Homo sapiens: one gene and its partner. The protein of the gene in region 1 purifies or fractionates together with the protein of each later gene. This does not show direct contact. Each region holds a gene or a part of one and is shown on either strand. Other genes may lie near its edges.

Evidence for each region.
Region 2: the proteins of ACTRT1 (region 1) and SERPINB9 purify together in Homo sapiens (affinity purification with mass spectrometry; one large-scale study listed by BioGRID and IntAct). This does not show direct contact.

What each region holds. Positions count from the first base shown.
Region 1 is NC_000023.11:128,049,342-128,054,706, forward strand, and holds ACTRT1 (actin-related protein T1), read right to left. Parts: upstream 3,063-5,365; 5' UTR 2,866-3,062; coding exon 1,735-2,865; 3' UTR 1,621-1,734; downstream 1-1,620. UniProt on the Homo sapiens protein: Negatively regulates the Hedgehog (SHH) signaling. Binds to the promoter of the SHH signaling mediator, GLI1, and inhibits its expression.
Region 2 is NC_000006.12:2,890,040-2,893,309, reverse strand, and holds part of SERPINB9 (serpin B9), read left to right. Parts: intron 1-1,321; coding exon 1,322-1,477; intron 1,478-2,739; coding exon 2,740-3,147; 3' UTR 3,148-3,270. UniProt on the Homo sapiens protein: Granzyme B inhibitor.

The DNA.
Region 1 (5,365 bases):
CAGTGGCTCACGCCTGTAATCCCAGCACAGCACTTTGGGAGGCCAAGGTGGGTGGATCACCTGAGGTCAGGAGTTTCAGACCAGCCTGGCCAACATGGCGAAACCCCATCTCTACTAAAAATAACAAAAATTAGCTGGGCGTGGTGGTAAGCACCTGTAATCCCAGCGACTCGGGAGGCTGTGGCGGGAGAATCACTTGAACCCAAGAGGTGGAGGTTGCAGTGAGCCAAGATCGTGCCATTGCACTCCAGCCTGGACAACAAGAGTGAAACTCTGTCTCAAATAAATAAATAAATACCATCAATATTTTTTAATTTACCCCCCTTTTCAGCATTTTAAAATTTTATTATTTTTTCTAACATGTTATCTTATTCTGGGGTTATTTCTATATGCCTTAAGTAAATCTTATAAGATTTTCTGTGCTAATAGTGTGCTGACAGTAAGTACTTTTAGTTATTATTCAAAAATGTCTCTTATTTTATGACCATCTTTCTTGTAATGGTTTTCCTGGGTATATAATACTATACTGACAGTAGAGTTTTTCTAACTCATTTTGAAGGTGTTATTCCACTATCTTATTTCTTTGTGGTTTTGATTAGTTACCGGTAAACAGAAGTTTGCTGTTAAGTCAACTCTCTCAAATAAACATAAAAATGAAAAGAATTGACTTATAGTGACTATAGGGCTTGACAATTTTCATGGTTGTATTTAGGCTAGCAATGATGAGTAGATATGTGAAAAAATATAATTTTTTAGATGAATGGTTTTATTTCGTTCAGGCTGAAATTTATAATATAATAATTTCTTTTTTTTAATTTGTTACACCATTTCCTTCCAGCTGCATTACCTCTCATTCCATTCTTCTTCAAGTTGCATAAACTATGTAGTGCCTTTACTTTTGTACTTTTCTCCAAATGCTTATAATTAAATAAAATCACATTTATTAATATATGTATTAACTTAATGAGAAGAAATATTTCTGTATGCATAATTTATTCAATGATTATTTTATTGATAACTATTGTTTCTAGTGTTTTATCCATAACAAAATGATGCTATATAGAGCCTTGAAATTAAAAATGATAAAAAAATAATTTAGAAATACTGATTCTTAATGCTGCAACTGGGAACAAGGACCCTGAGCTTAGAGAGCCTTAGAAAATGGTGATTTCTATGCCCAATTTTTTCTCCATTCTAATTAGCATTTTTGATCTCATAACAGCACAGCAAGAACCCTATTGCACTAACTAAATGACAAACCAGGAAAAAGGACTTGAACTCTAAGACTAGTGGAGGATTTCCAGTTCTGCTTCATTTCCTTCCTTTGCCCACACTTTTCTTCGTGATTTAGTCTCCTGGGAACTGGGTCTATTAGAACCACCTAAGATAATAATTTAATTTAAAGATTCTTGAGATTCTACCAAATCAAGTTCCTAGATATGAGCCCCAGGCACCGTTTGCTACAAATCCTCTATATGAACATAACCTCAACATATAACCCAAGATCTTCTTAGGAGAAAAAAACTTAACAGGCCCATAGGAAAGAAGAGAGTAATAGAGCAACCTAAAGATTCATGACATGACTCATATATTATGGTGCTACTAAGAATAAACTGAAACTTGAAATGGCAAAACTTTTATTGAACATCATGCTGAAGCCCAGAAGAAAATGCCATCTCCCACTGGTACTCCTGTAATCTGACACTTCAAGATGTCTCCTCTGCTCAAGGATCTTTAAAAGCACCTTCTTTGAACCACAGATGTCCCATACTCCTTGAAGTCTGCCGAGGTGACCCACATCTGCTTGAAACTGCTCATAGAGGTCATGATGGATGCACCAATCCATGCAGAGAAGCATCTATCAGGAGAAGCTGTGATCTTGATGGGAGTACCTTTGGAAGCCAGCTGTTCCACTTCCTTCATGAGCCTTTCCTCCAGCCCAGGGAGGAGAGTGGTGCCCCCGGAGAGTACAATGTCTGCATAAAGTTTATTCTGGATGTCAGTGTCACACTTCATGATGCTGCTGGAGACCATTTTTGAGAGTCCTGGGCTGTGGATGCCCAGCTGGTCAGGTGCAAAAAGAACCTCGGGCACTTGGTACAGCTCATCCCCAAAGTGGATGACATGTCCATCTGGCAGTCTGTATGCTCCCAGGACCTCTCCCCGGCTCTTGCGTAGCTCTTTCTCTGGCTCCAAGGCGATGTAGCACAACTTCTCTTTGATGTTATTTACCACGGCCTTGTTGAGTATGCAAGGGAAGTTAAACCCGCTAGCAAAGAGGAGCCGGGTGAGGTGCTCTGTGATGTCCCTCCCTGCCATACAGAGTTTGGTGACTGCGTGAGGCAGGGAGTAACCCTCAAAGATGGGGACAGTGCAAGTGACCCCATCTCCACTGTCCACCACCAGGCCTGTGACACAGGCAGAGGCATAGAGCGCTGCCACCGCATGATTAGACAGGTAGAAACCAGGCACACTGAAGGTCTCAAACATCATTTCTGCTAGCTTTTCTCGAATTTCCCTAGGATTCAAAGAGGGCTCGGTCATAAGTACAGGCTGTTGGCTGGGTTTTACTCCAAGCTCCCGCTCAAAGAGATGTTTCCAGAGTTTCTCCATGTCATCCCATCCTGTTACCAGTCCACGCTCAATGGGGTAGTGCAAATGTAGGGCCTCATACTTGTACAGGGCTTCTTGCCCCACGAAGTACTTCTGATTAAGTCTTGCTAAAGGCACATTGAATTTACAATGTCCCAAGACGGAGCTGATGACATGGCGGGGTCCAATCTCTCCAGACAGGCCTGCTTTGCAGAGTCCTGAACCATTGTCAAAAATTACAGCAGGAACATCTAATGCATGTGGATTAAACATGTCTGTAATATGTTCTCCTGGACTTCCCCCAAATAAAGAAAGAACACTTACGTCACTCTCTGAGATGACAGGCACCTTTAGAATTTTTTAAACTTCAGGGTTCTGAAGTTTCAAGTTGTCACCCATGTACAGCTAGTAGGCTACCTTCAGTCCACCAGGACACCCCATCCTCAACCTCTGAATCTTATCTCCATTCTGTAGGCTCAGGGCCTGCTGAGGCAACATGAGGGGTGATTGCCCTCTATGTCACAATCCAGCCAAGGCAACAATTGTCCTCAGTGAGCATCAGAGGGGCCGGGTGGGGCCTCTGAGCCAATAGTACTCCCTACTTGGTCAGATACAAAGCCAAGGAAAGCAAATCATACCTACAGAGCTATGAGAAACACTATTCTACATGCTTTTGCTTGGAATTATGTTTTCATTTTTTTAGATATATATTTGAGAATAGAATTGCTGAGTTATATGACAACTGTATGTTAAATCATTTGATTTTAATTTCTGTAAGTTCTTTGTTCCAAAGTGGCTGTGACATTTTGCATTCCCACAGTCGCTGTAGGAATGCTCCTACTTCTCCACATGCTTCTAAATTCTATTTTCTGACTTTATGATTCTAGGCATTCTAGTGTGTGTGAAATGTTATCTTATTGTGGTTTTGATTTGCAGCTTTAAGTATCAATGTTGAGAATCTTTATTATGTGCTTATTGGCCATTCTAATACCTTCTTGGGAGAAATGTCTATGCAGACCCTTTGTTCCTTTTTTATAAGGTTGTTTTTTGATTATTCCATTGTAACTGTTCTTTACACATTCAAGAGTCTGGTGTTTATCAGATACATTATGTGCATACATGTTCTTTTATTCTTGTATTGTCTTTTCACTTTTTTGTTAGTGTTCTTGAAATTACAAAACTTTTAAATTTTAAAGGAGTCCAGTTTCTCTGTTATCATTTGTTGTTCATATTTTGTGTCATATGTAAGCATTCATTATAAAATTTAAGATTCTTAAATTTATCTTTTTGTTTTCTTGTAAGAATTTTAAACTTTTAACTATTACATTTAGTTTTTGTTAATTTTGAGTTCATTTTTTATTTATGGTGTGCATTAAGTTTTCAACTTCATTCTTTTGAATATGGTTCTATCTGGCTGTTCCAGCACCATTTGCTGAAGAGGATAATTTTGCCCCATAGAATGACTAGTATCTTTTTCAAGCAACAATTGACCATAGACAGACACCTGGGTTTATTTCTGGACTCACTGCCCTATTCCATTGATCTATATGTCTATCATCATGCTGGTAGCACACTGCATTGATTTCTGTCACTCTGTAATAAATTCTGTAGTTAAGAAGTTTGAGTACTTCTTTGTTCTTCCTTTTCAAGATTGTTTTGGCCATTTTGGGTCCCTTGCAATTCAGTATGCAATTTAGGATCAACTTTCCAATTCCTACGCAAATGTCATATGGAATTTTGATAGAGATTGCCTTGAATCATTAGATCAATTTAAGGAATATTACCATCTTAATAACGTCAACTCTTCCAACCCATGAACATGTGATTTTATTTTGCCATTCACTTGCATATTATTTTAGTTTCTTCATGGAATATTGTCATTTTTGGAGTAAAACTTTTATACCAGTTTTGTCAAATTTTTATTTCCAAGTATTTTATTTTTCTTTTATAACTGGAGTTTTTTTTGTTTTGTTTTGTTTTTGTTTGTTTTTTGTTTGTTTTGTTTTGTTTTTTGTGATGGAGTTTCACTCTTGTTGCCCAGGCTGGAGTGCAATGGCTCTATCTTGGCTCACCACAACCTCCGCCTACTGGGTTCAAGCAATTCTCCTGCCTCAGCCTCCTGAGTAGCTGGGATAACAGGCATGTGCCACCACACCCAGCTAATTTTGTATTTTTAGTAGAGACGGGGTTTCCCATGTTGGTCAGGCTGGTGTTGAACTCCCGACCTCAGGTGATCCACCTGCCTAATTTTATCTTTGATTCAGAGGGGTACATGTGCTTATTTGTTACATAGGTATTACATGTATAATGGTGGGAGTTGGGATTCTAGAGTACCCATTAACCAAATATTGGACACTGTATTCAATAGGTTATATTTTATCTTTCACTCTTCTCCCACTGTCATCCCTTTGGAGTCCCCAGAATATATTTTGCCCATCATTATGTCCATGTGTATCATTTGTTTAGCTTCTACTTATAAGTGAGAGCATCTGTATTTGATATTCTGCTTCTTTGTTAGTTTACTTAGAATAATGGCCTTCAGCTCCATCCATGTTACTGCAAGAGACATGACTTCATTCTACTGTATGGCTGCATATTATTCCATTGTGTATATATACCACATTTTCTTTATCCAACCAACTGTTTGTAGACTCTTAGGTTGGTTCCATCACTTTGCTATGGTAAATAGTGCAGTGATAAACATACAAGTGCAGATGTCTTTTTTATATAATGAATTCTTTTCCTTTGCTTAGATACCCAGTTGCGGGATTGT
Region 2 (3,270 bases), on another chromosome or scaffold:
ATTTGAAACTTAAAGTATTTCTGAATGAATTTCTTAACTCAGTAGAAAAAAACGGAAGGAGTAAAAGATATTTGCTGCATATATATATTATATATACGTATATATAATATATATATATATATGTAGTGTTTTATCACTGCTCTTAACTGCCTTTGATAATTTCTCATAAACCATTGCTGCCACCTAGTTTTGGAAACTAAAGATCTTCCTATAAGCCCAATTTACTTGGCTAGAAAGCAAAAAAAAAAAAAAAAAAGTGTTAAGGTAGTGTGATATGTGGGAGTGAGAGGCAGTATAGGGCAGGGTAGAGGGAGAGAAGGTGAAAACATGTGTCTTTAATTAGTTATTTTTAAAATTAAAGTAAGTTTTGATTTGAATTGTTAACTAATTATCATTAATTCAGTATTTACAGCTTTTTAATATTAAAACTTCATGACAAAGACCTTAGTTTTGACATTGAAGTAAAACTTAATTAAGGCAGGCATTAGAATAATTTGCCAAATCTTCCAGCCCCTAAAAAGATACTATTTTAATGTAATTAAAAAACAAAAGCAGGTAACCCTCCTGCATTTTTTGTAAGGTGTACTTTAACTTAAAAAAATTAGTTCTCTAGTTGCAAAGGGTGGGAGGAGGAGAATTCTAACCCTGGTTTTAGAACTATTTTAATTTTTATAATAAATGATCTGTATCAATTTTTTAAAGTATTACGTTAATAAATGTAATACTTTGCTGAGCTTCTATGTGCTTATGCCTCTTCTGTATTTTAAAAAAGTTATTTCATTAGAGTATCAGAATTGAAAAGATTGGGTTAAAATACATTACTACATATGTAGGTCGTTACTCTTTCTGAGAGAGTGTATCCATTTATACTCCCTGTCATGCTGTTGTGGAACTATAAGTTTCATCCCACTTTATGATTTTTTTTCTCATATGTTGGGTTGGATAAATAGGAAAAACAATACACATTTTTTTCTAATTAAATCAAAACAAATTTGTATTTAATTTCATTTGATTATATTGCTTTCTTAGATCTATTTGCTGAGCACAATTTAAATGAGAAACATCTTTCTCCTCTGGAAAATGTAGGGTATCACATTTTATTTTGCAGAAGAAAACCTTTCCCAGGGTGGTACTGTGTCTGCTTGCAATGAAGATAGGAAGGAACTGGTTGACTTTTTTTTTTTTTTTTTTTTTTTTTTTTTTTAGTGTTAACTGGGGCATGAATGTGGCGGTTTCCATCACAGGTGCTGAAAACACTCTTGGAGGCAACTGCAGCTCTTTTGAAAGTTTTAATTGCGTCTTTCAATAATCCTTCCCCCAGGAGGAGCAAAGGCCAGTGCAGATGATGTATCAGGAGGCCACGTTTAAGCTCGCCCACGTGGGCGAGGTGCGCGCGCAGCTGCTGGAGCTGCCCTACGCCAGGAAGGAGCTGAGCCTGCTGGTGCTGCTGCCTGACGACGGCGTGGAGCTCAGCACGGTAAGACCCGGGCTGCGGGAAGAACCCAGGGACACCTTTGCGGGCAGAACTCGAGTGCCACTTCCACCTCTCATATTCACCTTCTGAGTTGGCGATGCGGCAGACGCACACTGTGCAGGCACTTGGCGTTGGGATCGAACTTTTGTTCAAGGCTGACTTTTCCCAATATTGTCTGCGTGATCTGCCAAACTACACATCTCAGTCCTCTGTTTTTTCATCGCTAGAAGGAGTGGGCGGCGGTTAAAATGCCTTTTAAAATAAATCAGGTAGGAGGAAGCTTATAAAAATCCTGCTAGTTTGATGAATGGCAGACTTTTAACTCTAAAAGCATAAATGACTGCTCGGGGTTATTGCCTCCTAGAGTTATGATGAGGATAAAATGTGGGTAATTCAGGTAACAAGCTTACCACATTGCCTGGCAACTAGTAAATGCTCTACAAATGTGATCCATTATTACAATCATCATTCTTAGCATTATGCTTTTAAAGTCTAGGAACCTGAAATAGAGAATGAGGAAGTCTTAACTTTGACCTAACAAGGCTGGGAGGGGGCATCCAGGGAGGTGTGAAGTCCAGTTCTCAGAGGGTGGGACCAGAGGCAGCCTCTGAGGGCACATCCAGGCACTCGGCTTCCTTTCAGCATGGATCTCCAGGGTGAGAGAGTCAACCATGGCAAATGGCAGGCAGTGGGACCCCATGACTTAAGAGGTCTGTGTGCGCAGCAGCCATTGGCTCTCCCTCTGCCCACCTTCCTGAAACTATGCTCCGGAAACTATGCAGAATCTCTCTGGGGCAGATAATCCTCTGGTAACCTCTCTGCTCCGGAAACTATGCAGAATCTCACCTGGGACAGATAATCCTGTTGGAGTGGCTCACACTGAGAGCCCTTTCGTTTCCAATCCTTTTCTTTACTAGCAATGGTTTGTTGTCTTTAAAAAGACTATGTTTGAAAAAAAAACACAGTCGCCTGGGCATTGACACTTGTCACAATACAAGATGTCTCTGGAGTTGTTGGATAAGGAGAGGACAGCCACAGCCTTCCTGCCTCTGACTGCTTGGTGTCTCTCCCCCTTGTCAAGGAAGTGGCACATGGGACATAGGACAAGTAAGAGTGCTCACAAGCTTCTGGCAGATGAAGGGGCCACTGATCCTATGTGAACAAACAACACCTACGTGCAAGGGGAGGAAGGGAACTGTGAGTGCCTGTGCGCTTGTACATGTGCACTGAAGTCGGAATCTTAAAGTCTAATTCTGGTCTTTCAGGTGGAAAAAAGTCTCACTTTTGAGAAACTCACAGCCTGGACCAAGCCAGACTGTATGAAGAGTACTGAGGTTGAAGTTCTCCTTCCAAAATTTAAACTACAAGAGGATTATGACATGGAATCTGTGCTTCGGCATTTGGGAATTGTTGATGCCTTCCAACAGGGCAAGGCTGACTTGTCGGCAATGTCAGCGGAGAGAGACCTGTGTCTGTCCAAGTTCGTGCACAAGAGTTTTGTGGAGGTGAATGAAGAAGGCACCGAGGCAGCGGCAGCGTCGAGCTGCTTTGTAGTTGCAGAGTGCTGCATGGAATCTGGCCCCAGGTTCTGTGCTGACCACCCTTTCCTTTTCTTCATCAGGCACAACAGAGCCAACAGCATTCTGTTCTGTGGCAGGTTCTCATCGCCATAAAGGGTGCACTTACCGTGCACTCGGCCATTTCCCTCTTCCTGTGTCCCCAGATCCCCACTACAGCTCCAAGAGGATGGGCCTAGAAAGCCAAGTGCAAAGATGAGGGCAGATTCTTTACCTGTC